Homo sapiens: one gene and its partners. The protein of the gene in region 1 purifies or fractionates together with the protein of each later gene. This does not show direct contact. Each region holds a gene or a part of one and is shown in the gene's direction. Other genes may lie near its edges.

Evidence for each region.
Region 2: the proteins of WASF3 (region 1) and EPS8L2 purify together in Homo sapiens (affinity purification with mass spectrometry; one large-scale study listed by BioGRID and IntAct). This does not show direct contact.
Region 3: the proteins of WASF3 (region 1) and CD47 purify together in Homo sapiens (affinity purification with mass spectrometry; one large-scale study listed by BioGRID and IntAct). This does not show direct contact.
Region 4: the proteins of WASF3 (region 1) and CPNE7 purify together in Homo sapiens (affinity purification with mass spectrometry; one large-scale study listed by BioGRID and IntAct). This does not show direct contact.
Region 5: the proteins of WASF3 (region 1) and GTF2IRD1 purify together in Homo sapiens (affinity purification with mass spectrometry; one large-scale study listed by BioGRID and IntAct). This does not show direct contact.
Region 6: the proteins of WASF3 (region 1) and SUPV3L1 purify together in Homo sapiens (affinity purification with mass spectrometry; one large-scale study listed by BioGRID and IntAct). This does not show direct contact.
Region 7: the proteins of WASF3 (region 1) and WDR33 purify together in Homo sapiens (affinity purification with mass spectrometry; one large-scale study listed by BioGRID and IntAct). This does not show direct contact.

The regions. Positions count from the first base shown.
Region 1 is NC_000013.11:26,686,683-26,689,448, forward strand, and holds the end of WASF3 (actin-binding protein WASF3), read left to right. Parts: 3' UTR 1-2,266; downstream 2,267-2,766. UniProt on the Homo sapiens protein: Downstream effector molecules involved in the transmission of signals from tyrosine kinase receptors and small GTPases to the actin cytoskeleton. Plays a role in the regulation of cell morphology and cytoskeletal organization.
Region 2 is NC_000011.10:712,731-716,230, forward strand, and holds part of EPS8L2 (epidermal growth factor receptor kinase substrate 8-like protein 2), read left to right. Parts: intron 1-3,500. UniProt on the Homo sapiens protein: Stimulates guanine exchange activity of SOS1. May play a role in membrane ruffling and remodeling of the actin cytoskeleton. In the cochlea, is required for stereocilia maintenance in adult hair cells.
Region 3 is NC_000003.12:108,053,032-108,056,531, reverse strand, and holds part of CD47 (leukocyte surface antigen CD47 isoform 1 precursor), read left to right. Parts: intron 1-965; exon of another isoform or gene 966-1,012; intron 1,013-2,183; exon of another isoform or gene 2,184-2,279; intron 2,280-3,500. UniProt on the Homo sapiens protein: Adhesive protein that mediates cell-to-cell interactions. Acts as a receptor for thrombospondin THBS1 and as modulator of integrin signaling through the activation of heterotrimeric G proteins.
Region 4 is NC_000016.10:89,585,758-89,589,257, forward strand, and holds part of CPNE7 (copine-7), read left to right. Parts: coding exon 1-28; intron 29-912; coding exon 913-999; intron 1,000-1,285; coding exon 1,286-1,345; intron 1,346-1,798; coding exon of another isoform or gene 1,799-1,837; exon of another isoform or gene 1,838-2,917; coding exon 2,918-3,051; intron 3,052-3,500. UniProt on the Homo sapiens protein: Calcium-dependent phospholipid-binding protein that may play a role in calcium-mediated intracellular processes.
Region 5 is NC_000007.14:74,516,406-74,519,905, forward strand, and holds part of GTF2IRD1 (general transcription factor II-I repeat domain-containing protein 1), read left to right. Parts: intron 1-1,733; coding exon 1,734-1,917; intron 1,918-3,003; coding exon 3,004-3,314; intron 3,315-3,500. UniProt on the Homo sapiens protein: May be a transcription regulator involved in cell-cycle progression and skeletal muscle differentiation. May repress GTF2I transcriptional functions, by preventing its nuclear residency, or by inhibiting its transcriptional activation.
Region 6 is NC_000010.11:69,204,234-69,206,913, forward strand, and holds part of SUPV3L1 (ATP-dependent RNA helicase SUPV3L1, mitochondrial), read left to right. Parts: intron 1-2,680. UniProt on the Homo sapiens protein: Major helicase player in mitochondrial RNA metabolism. Component of the mitochondrial degradosome (mtEXO) complex, that degrades 3' overhang double-stranded RNA with a 3'-to-5' directionality in an ATP-dependent manner.
Region 7 is NC_000002.12:127,706,672-127,710,171, reverse strand, and holds part of WDR33 (pre-mRNA 3' end processing protein WDR33), read left to right. Parts: intron 1-315; coding exon 316-479; intron 480-589; coding exon 590-682; intron 683-1,279; coding exon 1,280-1,495; intron 1,496-3,500. UniProt on the Homo sapiens protein: Essential for both cleavage and polyadenylation of pre-mRNA 3' ends.

The DNA.
Region 1 (2,766 bases):
GGGAGCTACACCGCTGAGCTGGGCAGAGCTGCGGCACAGGGCCTGGGCTGCAAAGGAGCCCTGCTCCTTTAGTTTCCTGACACCTGTGTCCTGAGTGAGCCGCAGGAGTTCTTAGCTCCTCAGCGAGCAACAGAGAGCACTTTAGATGGCACCTTTCACCACTTGGTCAGAATTTTAAAAGCTTAGGTTTAGGTGAAAGTAGATATTGACAGCTATTCACCTTTCACGGTGCTGGGGCCAGATTAGGGATCACTCCCGTGAGGAGGGCCTTCACCCTGTTCTAGAAGCACATGGTTGTCCTCCTGTTGTTGGCACATTAAATGATAAAAAGCACCTCATGAGATTCCCTTGATCAGCCCTGCAGCTGTAGTACAGTGCTGTGCCCTCACCTCCACCCTTCCTGTTGTTCCCACGTGGGCAATACCAGGGACCCATGGGGAAACTCAAGAATGACAGCTTCTATATTTTGTAATTCTGGATGAAAGATAACTGTGTTGAACAAACAGGTGCTCCAGGCTTTGATTATAGATACGACTTCAAAAATATGCTAAGACGCTTGACTTATTAAGGACTTTAACCTACTCAACAGTATTTCATATCCATTGTGGTTAGTTACTCAGTTATGTTGAGAAGAATCTGGAGCTAAAAGCAGAGATGTTTGAGGTGACGGTAGGAATGTGAGCAGGATGGTGATGGGGGTTTTTGTTAAAATGCATCTGAGCAAGTCAGCCAGCCCCGAAGTCCCCTCAGTGTGTGTGTCTCGAGTGGCTACCTGTTGGGCTTGTGGGCAGTGATTGTACAGAGCCTGTCCATTGGGTGCAGTCATGTAGATCTGAAGCCCTGAAAAGCCTCATGTCTGCATCCCCTTTCCAAGGCTGCTTCCCTGGTGTGTCTGTTCTCTCCTCTGTCCCAGGTGCTGGGAGCGTCCTCTTCAGCGTCTTTTCCTAGAGCTGGTCACCACTAGGCTGTCACTATAAATTCCTTGAATATAAGTAACAGTTATTAATGAACTTCTAAATTTCTAATTTCTCTCTCTCTCTCTTTTTTTTTTTTTTGTTGTTGTTAAAAAGGGCCTACTACATTGGCGCTATTCTTAGGACTTCTGCAACTTTTAAAGTCTTACTTGTCTTTCTTGTTGCTTTTGTATTAGGAGTTCCCCGTGTGGGTCTAGAACTCCCCTTTGGTAATGCTTCTTTGTTTTTTTATGGCCCTTCTGTTCTCAGGATGGAGAGAACACAGAAGCTACTATCCATGTCAGGATTTATTCTATTTATATCTTATTACAATAAAATTAGTGGCACTTTATTCATAAATATTCATGAGCCTGTTAATTGTTAGTTGTCTTCCTGTAGCTGAATCAACAAGTTATTTTCAACTCAATTTTATGACTTGCGAAAAAGCTTTTGCCCTGTTGTGTACCATAACATTTAAAAGAATGGAAAATGACTGAAATCCAATTTAGATTATTTTTAGAGTATTTTTCCAGCAAATTCAATTTATTCTGAAATTTAAATCCAGATCTTTTCTAATATGGTATTACAATGAAAAGAATAAAGAGAAGATTTGAATTTTCAGTTTCATTTTCAAAAACTATTTACCAAAACAAATGGAGAAGAAACATCCAAAAGCACATTTCATTTCTCCAAACTTTGTGTTTTAAATTATAGTTATAAATTGTAAGGTAATTTTAAATTGTCCCTCGTATTATTTCTCCACGTCTGTTTTAGTTTAATGTCTCCTAAGCTTTTCTCTCATAGCGTAGACCTAGGGAAGGGATGGGAAGATTGCCCAGTCCCCGATGGCTGCGCACACAGGAGGCGGCGGAGCACAAGGCAAGTGAGTTTGCACTGTCAGCCCCAGACCGTAAGCTTGGCTACACTGATGTTTTTCTTTACTAAGGATACTATTCAAAAATTAACATTTTCATCTCAGTAAGTTTTTAGAACATCAAAATGTTTTCTGAGCTCCAAGTGGCTAGGTTGTAAAAGTTTTATAATAATTTGCAATTAAAATACATGATACATATTAATCCATTAAAGACTAGTGGGAATGTATCAGCCAGAGTAGCAAGTAATTTTTGTTTTATAAATCATAGTATCTGTCATCTTGCAGTATTACCAATGCTGTTGTAAATTGAATTTAAAGTGGTATTAAAAAAAACTGTTAAACAATTTTTATCTGTTTGTATATCTTACTATAGATTATGTACAAGTAACATCTAAATAAAATTACACTTTTAACCCTAAGAGGTTTTGCTTATTAATAACAGTGTTGTATGTTTGGCTTTTTTGGAAGAGAACTTGGTGTTAAGTGGTTTTTTGTTTTTGCTTTTGTTTAGCATTTTCCTTATTAGACAACAGAAGACACTACTTTGGTTTCCATTTAAATTTCTACATAATTTTTGTGTCACCAAGAGTTCAGATTGAATTCCTGAATGACTCGGGGCAGCACTAGTCTGGTTAGAAAGAAAAGGCCATGCTGGGAGTAGGGCAGCCACCTGTTGAGAGGATAGAGCCTGGGGCAAGAGGGTCTTAACCACATTTACTCTCAACGGTAAAAGTGAATAACACGCTGTAGTATGTATGTATTGCTTATGAGATGTTTTCATTTAATCCTTACAATAATCCTTAACATTCTGTTTCATATGTGGGAAAACTAGAGTGAAGCTAAGTTACTCTCTCAGGGACCTTGGTCGATAGAAAACTCAGTTCTGGGGCAGAATCACATGTTGGGGTAATGAGAGTCGAGATTGGGTGGGTAAGTGTG
Region 2 (3,500 bases), on another chromosome or scaffold:
AGAGCCATCAGGAGTCCCTGAGCTCTTGAATCGGGCTGTTTTGGGTGACCAGGGCCCTCCCAGCAGCCTGGGCAGCTAGACCCTGCATACAGCCAGGCTGGTGACTTCGGCCAGCTCAGTGTCCAGGGGAAGGCACAGAGCAGTGGCCGAGTTCACTTTAGTCCCCTCTTCCTGGGCAGCTCCACCACCTTTCTCAGGGACTCTGCCCTCTTCGGGAGGAGCCTGGGGCCTCTCAGCCTGGCTCCTGGACTTTGGCCCCAGCTGGCCTGGCCTGGCCCCCAGCCAGCAGGAGCCTCGTCTGCCCAGAGGCCAACAGAGTGAGGAGTGGAGGGTGGGTGGGGCTTTCCTGCCTCTCCCCGATGAGGACACTGGGGACCAGAGAGAGGGTGAGAGTCTGGTGGGAAGTCTCTCCAGCCAGGTGGGGGCCGGATCAGATTGGCCCTGACAGTGGGTGGGGGGCACCTGAGCCCGGGTCCATGGTTTGCTTTTTTCTAAGTTATCACACAGTAAAAGCCATGTGTACGTGGGGGTGTGGTTCTGTTGCCACCATAGTCGACCCATCAGCCCCATCACTCCAAACCTGTGAATCCCCGACCTTGGTGGCTACCCCCAACCTCTGGCAACACCTGCCTGCCTTCATCACCACAGTTTCTGTTTGTTTGTGTGTTTGAGACGGAGTCTCGCTCTGTCACCCAGGCTGGAGTGCAATGGCGCGATCTCAGCTCACTGCAACCTCTGCCTCCCAGGTTCAAACCATTCTCCTGCCTCAGCCTCCTGAGTAGCTGGGACTACAGGCGCCCGCCACCACGCCTGGCTAAATTTTTTTTTCTCTGAGACAGAGTCTCACCCTGTCACCTAGGCTGGAGTGCGGTGGCGTGATCTTGGTTCACTGCAACCTCCGCCTCAAGGGTTCAAGTGATTCTCCTGCCTCAGCCTCCCCAGTACCTGGGATTACAGGCACGCACCACCACACCCAGCTAATTTTTTATATCTTTAGCAGAGATGGGGTTTCACCATGTTGGCCAGGCTGGTCTTGAACTCCTGACCTCAATTGATCCACCCACCTCAGCCTCCCAAAGTGGTGGGATTACAGGCGTGAGCCACCGTGCCTGGCCTAATTTTTGTATTTTTAGTACAGATGGGGTTTCACCATGTTGGCCAGGCTGGTCCCCAACGCCTGACCTCAAGTGATCCACCTGTTTTCACTATGTTGGCCAGGCTGGTCCCCAGTGCCTGACCTCAGGTGATCCACCTGCCTCCCAAAGTGCTGGGATGACGGACTGAGTCACTGCGTCCGGCCTCCATCATTGTGGTTTGATAAGTGGAAATTAATTTTTATGATGTCCATTCGTATGTGTTTTTCTTTTATGGTTTAGGGTTTTTGGCATCCTAAGAAGTCATCCTTTGACCAAATTTCTGGAGATTTCTTCCGTGTTTTCTTTTATTTTTTGTAAATTAGGAATTCACTGTGGAAGTTCCTGTGTTTTCTTTTTCTTTTCTTTTTTCTTTTTTTTTTTGAGGTGGAGCTTTGCTGTGTCACCCAGGCTGGGGTGCAGTGGCGTGATCTTGGTTCACTGCAACCTCCACCTCTTGGGTTCAAGCAATTCTCCTGCCTCAGCCTCCTGAGTATCTGGGATTACAGGAATCCATCACCATGCCCGGCTCATTTTTTGTATTTTCATCAGAGATGGGGTTTCACCATGTTGGCAAGGCTGGTCTCGAACTCCTGATCCCAGGTGATCCACCAGCCTTAGCCTCCCAAAGTGCTGGGATTACAGGCGTGAGCCGCCGCGCTGGGCCAGTTCCTGTGTTTTCTTTTGGATGCTTCCCAGTGTAGGCTTTTGCGTTTAGGGCCAGGATCCATTTTATTTTATTTTATTTTATTTTATTTATTTTTTTATTTAATTTTTAAATTTTATTTTATATTTATTTTATTTTATTTTATTTTTTTTTGAGACAGTCTCAATGTACTGGACCACACTGATTGACTGTTTTGAATGTTGAACCAGCCTAATCCTCATTTATTCCAAGTGTGTGATCCTTTTTCCTGTGTTGAGGGACTGATGTGGTAATATTGTTGTTAGGGGTATTTTGTGTTGATGTCCATTAGAGGTACTGGTCTGTAATTTTCGTATAATGCCTATGGCAGGTTGTGTGGCAGGGTTATGTTGGTTTTATAAAATGGGTGGGGAAGTATTCCCTCCTCTTCTGTTTTCAGAAAGAGTTTGTGGGCCGGGCGCGGTGGCTCATGCCTGTAATCCCAGCACTTTGGGAGGCTGAGGTGGGCAGATCACAAGGTCAGGAGATCAAGACCATTCTGGCTAACATGGTGAAACCCCGTCTCTACTAAAAATACAAAAAATTAGCCAGGTGGGATGGCGGGTGCCTGTAGTCCCAGCTACTCGGGAGGCTGAGGCAGGAGAATGGCGTGAACCCCGGAGGCGGAGCTTGCAGTAAGCTGAGATTGCGCCACTGCACTCCAGCCTGGGAGACAGAGTGAGACTCTGTCTCAAAAAAAAAAAAAGAGTTTGTGAAAGCTTGTTATTGTTTCTTCCTTAGATATTTGTTAGGATTTGCCAGTGCTGCCCTCGGAGCACAGGATTTTCTTTGTGGGAAGGTTTCGGTTATTAATCCCCTCTCCTGCCTGTAAGATCTGTAGTGATGCCCCCTCTTTTGTTCTGGTTTTTGAGAATTTGTGTTTTCTCTAGTATTTTTCTTGATCAGGCTTGCTAGGGATTTACCAAGTTTATTAACCTTCTCATAACTAACTTTGGGCTCTGTTGATTTGTGTCTGTCAGTAGTCTGTGTAAAGTGCGTTGACCTCCTCTTAATTTTCTACCTTCCACTTACTGTGGGTTTTATTTGATTCACTTTATCTTTTTCTTTTGTTTTTTTTTTTTTTTTTTTTGAAATGGAGTCTTGCTCTGTCGCCCAGGCTGGAGTGCAGTGGCACGATCTTGATTCACTGCAAGCTCCGCCTCCTGGGTTCACGCCATTCTCCTGCCTCAGCCTCCCAAGTAGCTGGGACTACAGGTGCCCACCACCACGCCCAGCTAATTTTTTGTATTTTTAGTAGAGACGGGGTTTCACCGCGTTAGCCAGGATGGTCTCGATCTCATGACCTCACGATCCGCCTGCCTCGGCCTCCTAAAGTGCTGGGATTACAGGCATGAGCCACCGCGCCCGGCATTGATTCACTTTTCCTACCTGCTTAAGGTGAAACCTTAGATTATTTATCTTTTTTTTTTTTTTTTTTTTCTGAGATGGAGTCTCACTCTGTCACCCAGGCTGGAGTGCACTGGTGCAATCTCAGCTCACTGCAACCTCCGCCTCCTGGGTTCAAGCGATTCTCCTGCCTCAGCCTCCCAAGTAGCTGAGGTTACAGGCATGCACCACCATGCCTGGCTAATTTTTGTGTGGGGTTTTTTTTTTTTTTGAGACAGAGTCTCGCTCTGTCACCCAGGCTGGAGTGCAGTGGCACCATCTCAGCTCACAGCAAG
Region 3 (3,500 bases), on another chromosome or scaffold:
TATGTGTTTCTAAAACTTAATACGAAACTTGAATTGTTATAGTCAAATAATTTCTCATATGACTCACATAATAGTTTCAAAAAACTTTTACCTTTATTTCTGAACTTTGGTTCTTGATGATTGTTAATTGAATTCAATTCTGTCATATATTCTGTGTCTTTCTTTAATTAATGCTTATTAGATAAATAATTAAAATACTTAACTAAAATCTGCGTATCCTTAGCATATGAGTTCATAAGTCTTAGTTGTTGCTCAATGAAATTTTCTAATTTTATACCACATAATGCCATAAAATACAATGGAGACATCTAAAGCAGAATGGAATTCATGTGGTAGCTACAGTGAACATCTTGAATGTTGGTGCATATTCTATTTTTGTTACATCTTCCAATCACCATGTGTCTGGTTCTGGAAGATGACACTCCTGGTTTTGTTGCTCCCCACAAATGCCTGAGAATAGTGTGTGATTTGCAGTATCCATACAACTCTGGTGAAGTAGTATGAGATACCTTTGGCTGACGGGCAGCACGCTCTTATTTTTTCCTCACTATCTGGGTTGTCCTCCCTTTTACTCCCATGCCACCCCATGCCTTCCATATCTAGCATAGAATGATCTTCAGTACAGTTGCCAGCAGGTCTGGTGACAATGTCTCAAGTGGAACTAAGCATTGTCTATCTGCCACCTCCTTAACTTCACTCTCCTGCCTTCTCCATCACTTACGTTCCTCCAAGCCTGTGAAACCACTGTACTGTACCTGTCACTGTTCTGACATTAAAATTAAAATGACTTAAATCTTGACAAGTACCCCAAATTATTTTTTCTTTGTCATAGGTTAGCATATAAGTATACTATATGCTAAAATTTATGCTATATGTTTAAAATTTAGTGCAATTTTATTGATAGTGTCCTAATTTTATTGATAGTATCCTAAATTAACTTTTTAAATCAACTTGTCTGATGCCAGGGTTCAGAGGGACACCTACAGTCAGTTGAAAGGCAAGAAGAGACAAGGTACAGGAAAGTTGCTCTTTAGATAACATGGTAGACTAGGAGGAACATTAATATGGTTTGCTTATATAATCTGACTGTGTAAATCTGAATCTATGTAACATTAAGGTTGCAAATTTGAGCGTTTATATTAGGAAGTTAAAATTTTAAGTGTCTCCAAAATAATTTTTACTCATTGCACGTGTTCTGTTTTAGAAAAGCCTAATGATTGTGTTTTGATTTAAATGCAATAAAATCCTCAAATAGTTAAAAATCCAAGCTTTCTCTTCAAGAAGAAGTTAATGTCGCTATGAGATTTTTAACTTTTATAATTTTTATTATTTCCAACTTTAAATTTGTAGCCTTAATTTGCTATTTTAAAGAGTAGGCCTTTCACTTTCTACAACTTTCTGTGAAAGTGACTTTCACTTTCTATTTTTTAACTTTTTAAACTGTGTTGTATTTTTTTTCTTTTATTGGAAGCATTTTAATTTTATAAGATGAGAAAAAGGACTGGGCACAATAACTTAATGTGAAAGCATAGAAAAGATTACAAGAACCTAACCAAACTCACTAAAGTTGGGCTTGTTGTTTGTAGAGAACGTTTATATAATTATAAGGATCAATACTTTCTCATTTTTAAAGCCATTACCAGTTAGTTCAATATAAGGGCATATAGTGTTTTGATACAAATCAATCTGGTAGCAGTAAGTACCATATTTACCACAACATCCCAGATATTTTAGAATGATGCAGATGCAGAATATATACGTAGAATTTATATCTATGTATAGATACAAATTCAGATATTTTCTTGTTCAATTTAAGGAGAGGTAAATTTGGTATCAATAGAAAAAATGTTTCTGAAAAATTTAAACCCTGGAAATGTATTTATGGCATGGAGTCAGATGTTTCAGGGAGAGAAGAACAAATCAAGAAGCATTGCAAGTATGCTCATATGGAATGCTTAAGGCTTGTGGTTAAAAAATATATATATATGGCTGTCAATGTCTTAGGCTCATGGTAGCAGCAGAAATCGTAATAATTCTTTTGTCACATGGGTTATATCCATATTGGAGAGAATTAACTCAGGTGAAATTAACTTGTACACTGTTTGGTTTTATAATATTTAGAGGGATCACAACTGACTGATGTCCCTTTGAAGTACCATTCTTCATAAATCTTTTTTTTTCAGAATGGGCCAGCCAACTGTGACATCCCTTGGATCGGAGATTTAGAACTAGAAAGTATTCTTTCTACATTATTAGGGAAGAAAAGGAGTTACTTGGCGGTTAGCAATATTCTATTTTGTTTTGTTTTGTTTTTAGAGACAGGGTCTCATTATGTTGACCAGGCTGGCCTCGAGCTCCTGGGCTCAAGCAATGCTCCCACCTCAGCCTCCCAAGTAGCTGGGACTACAGGCATGTGCCACTACACCTGGCAGTGTTTATTCTGATAAATACATTTATGAGCTCAAAAATGTAACTCTAAAACCTTATCTCTGAACTTCCATATTACCATCAGAAATTTAGATAGTTGTTTAGTTCTCTTTTTCTTTGTAGAACATAGATATAAGGCATGGTTTCATTGAAGTCAGTTGTATATACATGTAACTATCCTGATGTTCCCAAATAAAGCTCTGTATTTCTGCTTAGTTTATTGGGGAGGCTGCTAAATGTAGTGCATCCCAACCCATTTTACCCTGTTCTACTTTAAAAAGAGGTTGGCTTCTTGTTTGGATACAAGGACCAAGTCACTCCCCCAGGTTCCTCCACAGTAAGGGAGGCCTATTTAAAGCCGCCCATGGCACTAACAGAAACTGGACTCCTATGAGCTCAGATACATAACTGGGCCTCACAGGGGTGGGACAGTATGTAGTCTAGGAATTGGAAGGATCCATTCCATATCAAAGAACTGAAGCATCGTGTTGCCCTCTCAGCAGCAAGAGTAAGGTGATGCCCCTGTCAGTTATAGTTCCTGAGTTCCTCTGTCTTTGATTCTTTGCCTATTAGCCAGCTAGCTCACCCTCTTGTTTATGCCACTGTTTTTTATCCTATTCATGCCTTCTCACAGACAACTTTTCTTACCTACAGCTTTGGACTCATCCTTGTCTCCTTTCTGTTTCTTTTTCACTTTCCCTTCCCATCACCAACTTTCTGGGTTTTTTTCTGTTTCTTCTTAGAGTCCAGTGGCAGGGAGAAACTTGTCAGTCCAGTCTGTTGCCATTTTTCCTGTTTGAGAAAGACTCACCAGCTTTTGGCTGGCTCACAGATTGGCTTTCCTTGGGTCAGGACCCACCCTTTTCCCTGCCAGCTTTGGAAGCTTGACAGAATTCGAGTGTGCAGTGGTGGTAAATAAATAGTAAGGAACACAGAGCAGTCCTGGAGGCGTGCCTCCATCTGCTGATGAGAAAATCCAGTGCTGTCATCCAGCCCAGGTCCCAGCGGAATGGGCCTCTCTGTTCAGTAGGATCCCCCTCCTGCTGAGTGGTTCATGGCATGTTTCTGTTCAA
Region 4 (3,500 bases), on another chromosome or scaffold:
GATGCAGAAGGCCTTTGAGGAGGGGCAGGTGAGCAGGACGGGGTAGGGGGTCCTCCAGGGAGGGTCAGGTGGGGGTGGAGGGGGGCCTTCGGGGAGGGGTAGGTGAGCAGGACTGGGGGGGTACCTCCAGGAAGTGTCAGGTGAGGAGGTGGGGGGTGGGGTAGGGGCCTCCGTGGAGGGGCATGTGGGTGGGCACCTCTGGGGAGGAGCAGGTTGGGGGGGCCTTTGGGGAGGTTCAGGTGAGGGGGGCCTCCAGGGAGGGGCAGTTAGCAGGGGGAGGGGGCATTCAGGGAGGGGCAGGTGAGGGGGGCCTCTGGGGAGGGGCAGGTGAGTCGGGGGCACACCTGGGCTACGCCTGTGTTGGCCCTGCCACAGAGGCTGTGAAACCCTGTCCCACTGTCCTGATGGGGTTGTGGGGAGTGGTGACAATGACTTGTTATAACCAGAGAAGGCTGAGGATGGTGGACCCTGGTGCTGGCTCCTGAGGGGTCATAGCAGGGGTGGCCCCCATCAGGTTCAGCTGGACATTTCAGGCACCATCTGGGTCTGGGCACAGGGGTGGTGGGAGGTGGGGCCAAGGGGTGCCCTCCCCTGTGTCTGCCCAGCCCACAGCAGCCGGGTGAGGGTGCAGTGGGGAGGCCACCCTGGGCCCTGCTTCCTCCCCCGTCCCTGGGCCTCAGTGTCCTTGGGCTTAATGACAGGGCCATGCCGGGTGGGGGATGCAACTCCCATCCCTCTTCATTCCCGTATGACCCACTCTGCCCCTTCCTGCTGCCCTGCAGCAGTGCCCTCCCCTCCCCTCCCCACCACGGGGCCCTCTGCCGTCGCTATTGGGGATGGTCTTGGGTAGGGTCTCCCTGGTAGGTGTTCAGAGCCACCACTCTGGGGGGCCTCTGCTTGTTCCTGCCCCAGGCCCAGTGGGACTGTGTGAACCCCAAATACAAGCAGAAGAGACGCAGTTATAAGAACTCAGGAGTGGTCGTCCTGGCTGACCTCAAGGTGAGAGGTGGCTGTGCCCGAAGCCTCCCCACCCACAAGAGGGGCTTCCGCTGCCTCCCTCTGATTGTTGGATGGACCCTCAACCAGAGGCCTGGTGGGCCCCAGCACGTCTGGGGAGGGGCTGAGAGACGGGGAAGGGCGAGGTTGGGGAGAGAGGATGGGGGAGAGGAGAGGAGGGTGGCACCCCAGAGGGACTGGGCTGCCTGCGGGAGGCAGGCCTGGATCCCAGCTGGCACTGGCCTCAGTGTCCCTGGCGGGGGTGGACGCTGACTCCGCCGGCCGGAAGTTCCACAGGGTGTACTCCTTCCTGGACTATATCATGGGCGGCTGCCAGATCCACTTCACCGTGAGTCCATGGCCCCGCCCCATGCCGCCCCCTCAGTCCGTGGCCCCGCCCCGCCCCGCCCCCTCAGTCCGTGGCCCCGCCCCTCCCCGCCCCCTCAGTCTGTGGCCCCGCCCATCCCCGCCCCCTCAGTCCGTGGCCCCGCCCCTCCCGCCCCCTCAGTCTGTGGCCCCGCCCATCCCCGCCCCCTCAGTCTGTGGCCCCGCCCATCCCCGCCCCCTCAGTCCGTGGCCCCGCCCCCGCCCCCGCCCCCGCCCCGCTCCCGAGGGGTCCCAGCCTGGCGGGTGAAAGGGCACTGGCGGTTCCCCGTGAGCCGATGTCTCCATGCGCGGCTCCTGGGGGTCCTCCCTTTTGCGCAGGCGAGGAAACGGGCTTGGGGTTCAGGAAGCAGCCCCAAGCCCGCCTTGGGAGGTGACATCACCAGGGCTTACCTTCCACAAACACATTTAACAACAGACAAAACGTGAACGAGGAGAAACTGGAGTGAGCGTTTGAGTGAACCAGCCACAGTCTCTACGTGTCATCCAAGGAGCCCGGCACAGACCCCGTGTCACCCCCATGTCACCCGCAGACCCCGCGTCACCCATAGATACGCACACCCCGTGTCACCCCCATAGCACCCCCGTGTCACCCACAGATACACGGCCCCCGTGTCACCCGCGTGTCACCCACAGAAACACGGCCCCCGTGTCACCCACAGATACACGGCCCCCCGTGTCACCCGCGTGTCACCCACAGATACACGGCCCCCGTGTTACCCACAGATACACGGCCCCCCGTGTCACCCGCGTGTCACCCACAGATACACGGCCCCCGTGTCACCCGCGTGTCACCCACAGATACACGGCCCCCCGTGTTACCCACAGATACACGGCCCCCGTGTCACCCACAGATACACGGCCCCCCGTGTTACCCACAGATACACGGCCCCCCGTGTCACCCGCGTGTCACCCACAGATACACGGCCCCCCGTGTTACCCACAGATACACGGCCCCCGTGTCACCCACAGATACACGGCCCCCGTGTCACCCGCGTGTCACCCACAGATACACGGCCCCCGTGTCACCCGCGTGTCACCCACAGATACACGGCCCCCGTGTCACCCGCGTGTCACCCACAGATACACGGCCCCCGTGTCACCCGCGTGTTATTTGCAGATGCGCTGGTTCGTGTTTTGTTGAACGAGCCCCAGAATGGCTTTGGGAGAAGCCAGCAAGTGGGAAACGTGGGGGGACCCAGACCAGGCTTGGTCCACTTAGGCCCTGCCGGGGAGGGTGGTAGAGGGGTTGGGCGGCCACTAAGAAGGATGGGCGGGGCCCCCACAAGGCCAGGGTGATCCTGGTGGGGTGTCCTCCCGGAGATCCAGGGAGCCTAGGGGCTGGCAGGTTTTGAGGAGACCTCTCCTGGCCCTGTGTAGCAGGTGGGTCAGCCCCAACAGCAGCCCCCCAGCCCTACCCACCTACGCGACCCCTGACCCTGAGTCCTGGCCACTCTGGGCGTGGTTTCTCTACCTGTCAGGAGCGGGTTCGGGGAGCCCCGGCCCAGCACAGCTCCTGGCTCCCGGCCCACTGCAGGTGGCCATTGACTTCACCGCCTCCAATGGAGACCCGCGGAACAGCTGCTCCCTGCACTACATCAACCCCTACCAGCCGAACGAGTACCTGAAGGCACTGGTGTCCGTGGGCGAGATCTGCCAGGACTATGACAGGTGCGCCCACCACCTTCCCCTCACCCCCTGGTCTCCAGGTCAGCTATGACAGGTGCGCCTGGCCGTCTTCCCCCTCACCCCCCTGGTCTCCAGGTCAGCTATGACAGGTGCACCCGGCCGGTTTTCCCTCACCCCCCTGGGCTCCAGGTCAGGCCTCGGGGCACCATGAGGTGGGCACTGTGAGTTTGTCAGACTGTGAGGGGCCGGGCGCGGTAGCTCATGCCTGTAATCCCAGCATTTTGGGAGGCCGAGGCGGGTGGATCACCTGAGGTCAGGAGTTTGAGACCAGCCTGGCCAACATGGTGAAACCCCATCTCTACTGAAAATACAAAAATTAGCTGGGCGTGGTGGCAGATGCCTGTAATCCCAGCTACTCAGGAGGCTGAGGCAGGAGAATCACTGGAACCCGGGAGGCGGAGGTTACAGTGAGTCAAGATCACACCTTTGTA
Region 5 (3,500 bases), on another chromosome or scaffold:
TGATTGCTCAGCCATGTCTTTCCTGCAGGAAGAGGAGACCTGGCCTCCCTTGGGAAGCGTCAGGTTGCAGAGGGCCTCAGGGCCCCAGTGGTGGTCTTCACACGCCCTGGGAAACATCGGGCAGGTCCCTTTGGTGCTCAGGGTCCCACCTCATTCATTTCTGATTTGGCTTTATCCCTTCTCCTACTGTAGCCTTTGGTTTTATGGAGCAAAGGTCTGTGAGGAAACTTCTGCTGTTCTTATGTCAGAAGGAGGGGTACCCAGAGGCCCTGGGTGGTCACACTGGCCACCCTGGGATGGGGGACTTGCCACGCATGGTTGGCTGTGCCTCTGTCGACACTTTTGCCAGCTGCAGGGCCCCGCGCCCCTGCCCGCCTTGCCCTGGCCCCCCTTGTCCACTTTGGGCAGAATTCAAGGAGGCTATGAGAGGATGGGCCTCTTTCTGGCTCAGGGTGGGGGCTGTAGCATGGAGGTGACAACAGATATCCCAGTGCCCAGTCCTCAGTCCCCAGCCTGCCTCCCCTCCTCTGTGCCCCCGAGCCCCCATCTTTGTTCCTGCGTCTTCTCAGTCTGTCTCTTTCTCCTCTCTCCTGTCTTTGTTGTTGTTGTTGTTGTTGTTGTTGTTGTTGTTGTTTTGAGATGAAGTTTCACTCTGTTGCCCAGGCTGGAGTGCAATGGCATGATCTCGGCTCATTACAACCTCCCCCTCCTGGGTTCAAGCAATTCTCCTGCCTCAGCCTCCTGAGTAGCTGGGATTACAGGCACCTGCCACCACACCTGGATAATTTTTATATTTTTAGTAGAGACGGGGTTTCACCATGTTGGCCAGGCTGGTCTCAAACTCCTGACCTCAAGTGATCCACCTGCCTCGGTAATCCCAAAGTGCTGGGATTACAGGCGTGAGCCACCACGCCCAGCCTCTCCCATCTTTTTCTCAATCCCCTATTTTTGCTCCCTCTCCACTTCCTCTTCTTCTTACTTTCTCTCCCCCCTCTCGGTCTCTCTCCCTTCCTCCCTACACCTTTTTTTTTTTTTTTTTTTTTTTGAGATGGATTCTCGTTCTGTTACCCAGGCTGGAGTGCAGCGGCTCACTGCAACCCACCTCCCGGGTTCAAGCGATTCTCCTGCCTCAGCCTCCCAAGTAGCTGGGATTACAGGCATGCACCACCACACCCAGCTAATTTTTGTATTTTTAGTAGAGACGGGGTTTCATCATGTTGGCCAGGCTGGTCTCGAACTCCTGGCCTCAAGTGATCCTCCCTCCTCAGCCTCCCAAAATGCTGGGATGACAGGCGTGAGCCACCACGCCCAGCCCTTATAGCTTTTTCCTTGCAGCCTGGCTCATGCAAGTCCCCACTTCTCCGTCTCTTCTGCCCTCTTTTCTCCTACCGGATTGTCTGCCTCTGCTCTGTCCTCTGGGCCCTTGAGTCCCCGATTTCCCCTCCAGCCAGGTGCCCAGAGTGGAGAGGGGCTTGGTCGGGGAGGGCAGCAGGGAACCTGCTTGGTGGGGGAGCCCCAGCCCCCCAGATGCAGACAATTGGGCCTTGTCCACACCACCCACCCCCAGCCTGCAGGCGGTTATTCTGCACAAAGTCTGCAGTTATGAGGGGTCCATGGGAACCCCGCACCAAGGGGAGCCACTCAGCACTGCCCCCACTCTGGGGCACAGCAGCCCCGACCCCAGCCTGGCTGCCCTCTCATACCAGGCCCCTCTCCTGGACTCTCCCCTACAGGCGAGGCCCTGGGAAGGGCCAGTGTGGTGCCACTGCCCTATGAGAGGCTGCTCAGGGAGCCAGGGCTGCTGGCCGTGCAGGGGCTGCCCGAAGGCCTGGCCTTCCGAAGGCCAGCCGAGTATGACCCCAAGGCCCTCATGGCCATCCTGGAACACAGCCACCGCATCCGCTTCAAGCTCAAGAGGTGAGTGAGGTAGCCGGCCCGGGGCTGGGCTGGGGCTGGGCCAGGGCCGGGTCAGGGCCGGGGGCTGGAGGCCACTTAGCCAGAGGGGAAGGGACTTGAGATGCCCGTGGGGGACCCTGGTGGTGAAAGCTCCCAGTCTGATGGTGGAGGTGAAGTGAAAGCGAAGTCATAGAACAGGATCTGAGCCAGGTCATTAAGCCTTGAAGTCTTCCCAGGGAAGTTGCATTGCAGAGAGACTTGAAGAGACATGACTTGGGACAAAATAGCACCAAAGTGGTCGGGTACAGTAGCTCATGCCTGTAATCTCAGCACTTTGGGAGGCTGAGGTGGGAGGATCACTTGAGGCCAGGAGTTCAAGACCAGCCTGGGCAACATACCAAGACCCTGTCTCTGCCAAAAAATAAAAATAAAAAAAATTACCCAGGTGTGGTGGTGCACACCTGTCATCTCAGCTGTTCAGGAGGCTGAGGCAGGAGGCTTGCTTGAGCCCAGGAGTTTGAGGATGCAGTGAGCTGTGATTGCGTCACTGCACTCCAGCATGGGCAACAGAGCAAGACCCCATCTCTTAAAAAAAAAATATGGCATTTTAGGTGTCAGAAACGGGAGAACCATGTCCTGTGCTTGCTCAGGTTGTAAATCTGGGGTTAATTAGGGATCCAGGGGAGATTAGGTTGTTGAGGCTGGTCTGAGGCAGTACCAGTTGTCAGGAGAGCCAAGAAGGCAGCCTGAGGGCTTAAGGTTGAACCCATCTCTGCTAAGTGCCCCAGGCAATGCAGAGGCAGGAAGGGGAGGGGTGCAGCAGGAGACAGGAGGCAATCAACCGCACCTGGCGGGATCTGAACAGTGGATTGGAGCAGAGGGGCAGGGCCCAGGTCCTCCGGTGGCCTAGCTCTGTGGCCCTGGGCACACCATTCCCACCTCCGAGCCTGCATCCCCACTTGTGAAGTGGAAGAGCAGCTCCTGTCCTGCCCTCCTCATGGGGCTGTTATGTTCTGCAGAGGGCAGGGATGCGGGGTTTTCGGGGGAAGAGCTGCAATGTGTGAAACAGATGTACAAAGCTGTCCATGTGTCCTCTCCTTTACTCAGGCCACTTGAGGATGGCGGGCGGGACTCGAAGGCCCTGGTGGAGCTGAACGGTGTCTCCCTGATTCCCAAGGGGTCACGGGACTGTGGCCTGCATGGCCAGGCCCCCAAGGTGCCACCCCAGGACCTGCCCCCAACCGCCACCTCCTCCTCCATGGCCAGCTTCCTGTACAGCACGGCGCTCCCCAACCACGCCATCCGAGAGCTCAAGCAGGAAGCACCTTCCTGCCCCCTTGCCCCCAGCGACCTGGGCCTGAGTCGGCCCATGCCAGAGCCCAAGGCCACCGGTGCCCAAGACTTCTCCGACTGTTGTGGTAACATTGCTGCTGGGATCTCCAAGTCTAGGGGGTGGGACAGAGGTCACTCATGCAGGGGACAGCCTCCCAGGGCAGGTCAGGATGCCTGGGCCCTCTTAGGTTGGAAGGAGCCATGTCTGGGCATGGGAGTGGGACTGGACAGATGGTGTCCTGGCTGAGACCCCCTTGGACCTTGGGTCTCTG
Region 6 (2,680 bases), on another chromosome or scaffold:
ATAACATGTTCTCTCACCTCCCGCCCTATTTCCTCTGCTTTGCATGCTCTCCCCACCCCACTAAACCCAAAGGCCTCCTCTTCTCTGAATCTTGTCCTGACTCACTGAGGTTCACTGCCATTTCCTCTGTAGGCCTGAGCATTCTACATATGAGCTATATTCTAATCAAATCTAGCTCTAAACTTATTTTTTAAATAACATAAATAGTCCAGTGCTGTGGCTCATGCCTGTAATCCCAGCACTTTGGGAGGCAGGAAGGATTGCTTAAGCCTAGGAGTTCGAGAACATCTCCAGCAACATAGCAAGACTCTGCCCTTTAAAAAAAAAATTACATAAATAATACATACATTCTCTTTATACAAAATGAGAACATTACAGATAGCTTAAATGTGGCTCCCTCCCCAATCTTAGTCCTCTGAAATAACTACTTGTGTAAGTTTGTGTGTATCTTTGCAGACTGTTTTTCATTGCGTTTGCCTATGTGCATGTTCATGTGGAAACACTAGATTTGTTGTGAGGGTGCATTTCCCCATAAAAAATTATCTTTTTTTTTTTTTTGAGACAGAGTCTCACTCTGTCGCTGAGGCTGGAGTACAGTTGTGTCATCTCAGCTCACTGCAACCTCTGCCTCCTGGGTTCAAGCGATTCTCGTGCCTCAGCCTCCTGAGTATCTGGGATTACAGGCATGTGCCATGCCTGGCTAATTTTTGTATATTTTGTAGAGGCAGGGTTTCGCCATGTTCCCCAGGCTGGTCACGAACTCCTGAGCTCAAGCAGTCCACCTGCCTCAGCCTCCCAAAGTGCTAGGATTACAGGCATGAGCCATTGTGCCCAGCCCTATCAACGTTATCTTAATGAATTACTCACAACTTGCCTTTTCTTTTTCTCTTAATAATATGTGTTAGAGATCTTCCATGTCCAGATGTTTACCTAGAAAATATGTTTCTTAGAGCTGGCATTTGTGAAAAACTTAGCTAGCATAAGGTTGAAGTTTATGGAACAGTCTTGAACTGCTGTAAACTGACCTGAGTGGAACTCAGTCCCATGGCCTTGGCACCATTCACACCATCCTTTAAACAGCTATTCTAGTGAATAGAAGCTCTTTACTAAGGTGTAGGGAGTCTCTGGAACATGCAGGTCAACAGTTGCTTGTTTTCTTAAGATAAGGTCTCACTATGTTGCCCAGGCTGCAGTGCAGTGGCACAATCATAGCTCACTGTAACCCCAAACTCCTGGGCTCAGGCGATCCTTCCACCTCAGCCTCCTGAGTAGCTAGGACTACAGGTGTGCGCCATGATGCGTGGTGTGTTTTCTTTTTGAGATGAAGTCTCACTCTGTTGCCCAAGCTGGAGTGCAGTGGTATGAGCTTGGCTCACTGCAACCTCCGCCTCCCAGGTTCAGGCGATTCTCCTGTCTCAGCCTCCCGAGTAGCTGGGATTACAGGTGCCCGCCACCATGCCTGGCTAATTTTTTGTATTTTTAGTAGAGATGGGGTTTCACCATGTTGGCCAGGCTGGTCTCAAACTCCTGACCTCAAGTGATCCACCCGCCTTGGCCTCCCAAAGTGCAGGGATTACAGGCATGAGCCACCACACCCGGCCGCTCCGTGTGTTTTCTGTTTAAAAATTAGAATATGAAATCTAGAGGCTTTTCCTTTTTTCCTGATCTTTGTCATTACTGAACTATGAAAGAGCTCAATCACATTAATGACTTAGGATGCCCCTTAGGACTGTGATTTGGAAGCTGTGCTCCATGGAGCTCCTTTAGGGCCAGCTGCTGGATGGATGGATGGATGGATGGATGGATGGGCGGGCATCTCTCCCTGCTCTCTCTGCATAGCTCCTTACTTAGCTCTTTTATGTATTGGGCTTCCACTAGTTGTTTGTGGCCAAAAAAAATAGAGCCACTGCCTTTATAAGATAACTTGAGAACTCATGCTTGGCCTGTCCTGCCTAGCAGGTAGTGTGGTCACATTTCTACCCTTTATGGCTATCCTACTTGGCATTTATTAAACTTAGCAGAGTGGACCAGACTGAATTTAACAAAATTGTGGCATTATTTAACTACAATTGATCTAAAACTGCTCTTCCTCTCTGAAGTATTAACCTTGCTTAGGTTAAGCATTTAGAGATAATTTCCCCTAATCAGGAAATGAATCATTTGAAATCAGCTTGAATCTTGAAGCTGAAGATTTTATTTAAACTCTTGCTTGAGGGGTCTTACTGTGTGGTTGTATGTCTATCTTCTGTAGTACAGGTGATGTATAATATTGCCTAATTCTGGGATGCAACATGGTTTTGAAAGCACATTCCCCAGCAGTGTCTTGTGGTTCAAGACAGGGCTGTGATGTCTCACGTTACCAGTGAGGAAGCTGAAGCAAAGAGTGTTGACTTGGCCAAAGCCACACAGCTCGCAGGAGGCAGATCCAAGATTGACTTCTGACCAGCCTTGCACCAGGCCACCTCAGAGGGTTTCTATATAATAAGGGAGGACAGCCAGGTGCGGTGGCTCACGCCTGTAATCCCAGCACTTTGGGAGGCCGAGGCGGGTGGATCACAAGGTCGGGAGTTTGAGACCAGCCTGACCAACATGATGAAACCCCGTCTGCACTAAAAATACAAAAATTAGCTGGGTGTTGTGGCGGGCGCCTGTAATCCCAGCTACTCAGGAGGTTGAGGCA
Region 7 (3,500 bases), on another chromosome or scaffold:
CTGATAATACCAGCTTCATATGGTGGCTGTGAAAATGAAATGAATGAAATGAAGTAATACTTGTATATACCTAAAAGCCTAAAAGAAGCTTAAAGTAACTCCACACTCTGGTGTGTTTCCTTCTGGTCTGTTTTTGCCTCTGATAGTATTAATAGGATTATATAATGTATCCTTTCAAAAATATATAGTTTTATTTTGTTTTCCTCCCAATTAACATTGTATCATGCTTTCTCATATCATATGCTTCTTTGAAACATGAACTTAGAGTGGCAAGGTGTTCTCTGAGATGGACATTCTGCTGTTTTCTCTTTACAGTTTCAGAAGAGGAGCCCCGCCGAGGCATGAGGGCCGTGCTCCCCCCAGAGGAAGGGATGGTTTTCCTGGTCCTGAAGACTTTGGTCCAGAGGAGAATTTTGATGCTTCTGAGGAAGCGGCCCGAGGACGAGATCTCAGAGGTCGAGGTCGGGGTACCCCACGAGGTGAGCGAGTTACTAAAGACACCTGGTCTGGAAGGATAGGGTGCAGAATACACTGGTTGTGAATACACCAGGAACAGTCTGAGTGCAGCATTGTTTGCTCTGTTGTGTAGGAGGAAGGAAGGGTTTACTTCCCACTCCTGACGAGTTCCCTCGCTTTGAAGGAGGGCGGAAGCCAGATTCCTGGGATGGAAACAGAGAGCCTGGTAAGGAAAAGAACCGCTTGTTGGGTAACTCTAGACTGCAGTTCACAAAGTGAGTTCTGAGGGCCCTCTCTGGGGTGCACCGGGTCTCCTCTTTCCAGCTCATGTCTCCCGGGGGGCTGGGCTGTCTCCTGTCCTGCAGCCGCAGCACTTGATCTCAGCAGGTGGAATGCAGAGCAGAGGAATCCGCCAGACATTACAGGGATCTATCTGAGTATAAAACGGGACTGCTCTTTCCACTAAATTGCTTTTGGAGAATAAAGTTAAGTGAATTAAAATTTCCCCAGTCTCAATTGCTAATATGGTAAATATTCGCAGTTACAACTCTCATTAACAAAATCTCTTAGGAGTCCTCAGTAATTTGAGACTGTAAAGACGTCTTGATACTACAATGCCTGAGAACGAGTTCTCTGGATCTTACCTGCCCCTCTTACATGAGGAGGCACCCTGATGTCTGGGTGGCTTACCCTTTGGCCTCTGGCGGGCATTCAGCATGAGTGAACGGTGGCTCTCGAGTTGCTCCTTACTCTCACAGTGTCATTCCCATCTACTTCTGGTCACACTGTGCTTTCCTGTAAGGAGATTTGTTTCTTGTTTCAGGGCCAGGTCATGAACATTTTCGTGATACTCCCCGCCCTGATCATCCCCCTCACGACGGTCATTCCCCAGCCAGCAGAGAACGCTCCTCTTCTCTCCAAGGCATGGACATGGCATCCCTACCTCCCCGAAAGCGCCCCTGGCATGATGGCCCAGGCACTTCTGAGCACAGAGAGATGGAGGCCCCAGGAGGCCCTTCTGAAGACCGAGGAGGCAAAGGTAAGAGCAGGCCAGTGGTTATGGTTCCAGGAGATGCAGGGGCCGATGGAGGCCTTGCCTGTATCTGCTGCACATGCCCTTGCAGCCTGGGCTGTGCAGAGGCACATGCTCCTAAATGTGGTGCCAGTGCCACACGAGCTGTCATCTGGTGGACTGCAACTCAGCCCTGCACAGGACTCCACTTGCCTCCGGGAATCCCTGTTCACTTGAGGTTTTCACTTCAGCCCTCTGCCAAGATGCCCCAGCACTCTCTGCTCGGCTTGCTGTCTGGGAGCCCTGCTCTCCTTGGCAGTCTGCCCTCCACAAGGCTGCTTGGAACCCTCAAGGGCTCTCAGTGGGAGGGGAAGAGTTGTCCTCTCCTGGGTGGTCTGTTGGTTTTTTTAGCCTGGGTCTAGAGGAACACTGCTTGTGCTCAAAGTCACAGAGACTTTGGGAAACATGGTCTATGGGCAGTGTTTCCAGGGGCACAGTAGATTATCTCCTCAACTGGGAACTGTGGAGCTTTATGTTATAGGCAGCACTAACTTTAGCCAGGAGTAGTTGCCTCTGAAGGCTGACTATACAACTCTGGTTGCAAGGCAGCGGGGGAGGTGCATAGGTGGTGTGGCTCGGAAGCTTCTGGGAAGGCTGCTCCCCGCATGCCCCAGCTTGTGCTCTGCTCCTGAAGTTGGCCTGTCTGTATGGACGGTCCTTCCAGTACAGAGTTCTGCCATTTGGTCTTTTTGGGTTTTTTTCTGTCGCCCAGGCTGGAGTGCAGTGGTGTGATCTTGGCTTACTGCAAGCAACCCCCGCCTCCCAGGTTCAAGTGATTCTTGTGCCTCAGTCTCCCCAGTAGCTGGAACTACAGGTGTGCGCCACCATGCTTTTGTGTTTTTAGAGAGATGGGCTTTTGCCATGTTGGCTAGGCTGGTCTCGAACTCCTGGCCTCAAGTGATCCACCTGCCTTGGCCTCTCATGAGCCACCATGCCTGGCCTGCCATTTGATCTTGATAGTTGTTTGTCTCAACAAAACCCTCAGAAATTACCTTATGTATCATCAATAGATCACCCTGCATAAACACATTGTACTACTAGCCAGTGTGCTGTGACCTTGGCTGACTTTCTTGGGCACTCAGCACACCATTATTAGGTCCCTCTGGTCAAGGACATGCAGTTAGCATGGGAATGATGTAGTAGCTGACACTCTGCCCAGGTGCCTCAGGTGGGTTGAAGCTGCACTTTCTAAGAAAAGAAGCCAAGATTGTTCCTTTGGCTGGCTCTCCTAACTTCATCTCAGCTAGATTCATATTCTATTACAAAATATGAGACAGCGGAGAGTTTGCAGTCATCTTCTGAGAGTGCATTATGGGAGATGTGACCAAATCCTATCATTTCCTGAGGAAAAAAATCTTACAAGATAGAATTTTTTTTCCTTTTCCTTTCTTTTTTTTCTTTTTTTTTTTTTTTTAAATATATTCTCAAGCTGCAACAGAATGAAAGAATTTTAATAGTACCTAAACATTTGTGCATACTAGTCTGAAGCAGGTTAAGCTGTGCCTCGGTGATAGAACCTGAAAGCCAGTGTTTTGTGGGGTTTTTGGGTTTTTGTGCTTTTCTTTTGTTTTTTCAAGAAATACTTTATTTTACTAATTATGAAAAGGAAGCCAAAAGTGCCACATGTCACGGGACAGTCCCAGTGAACGCTTGTCCTAGTTGGAGCACTTTTTATTAACATTAGCAGTGTGTACTTCCAAAGTTAAGTCAGTATATTCAAACCTTCCCTCAATATACCCTGGTGGCTGGGAGCAGGCAGATACACTTCCCATGGCCTGGGACATGGCCCAGTGTGGCCCGGGTCTCCCTGAAGGTGCTCCTTGCTCATCTCTTGGCTTCCTGTCGTCTGTCACACAGCCCTGGGGGCATGGATCTGGCTGATGCTGAGGCCCATGGCCATGAGCCAGGAAGGGGGAGGCAGGGTCAGGAAAGGGTAGAGGCACACCTCTCAGTACGCTGAATACCACTGCCA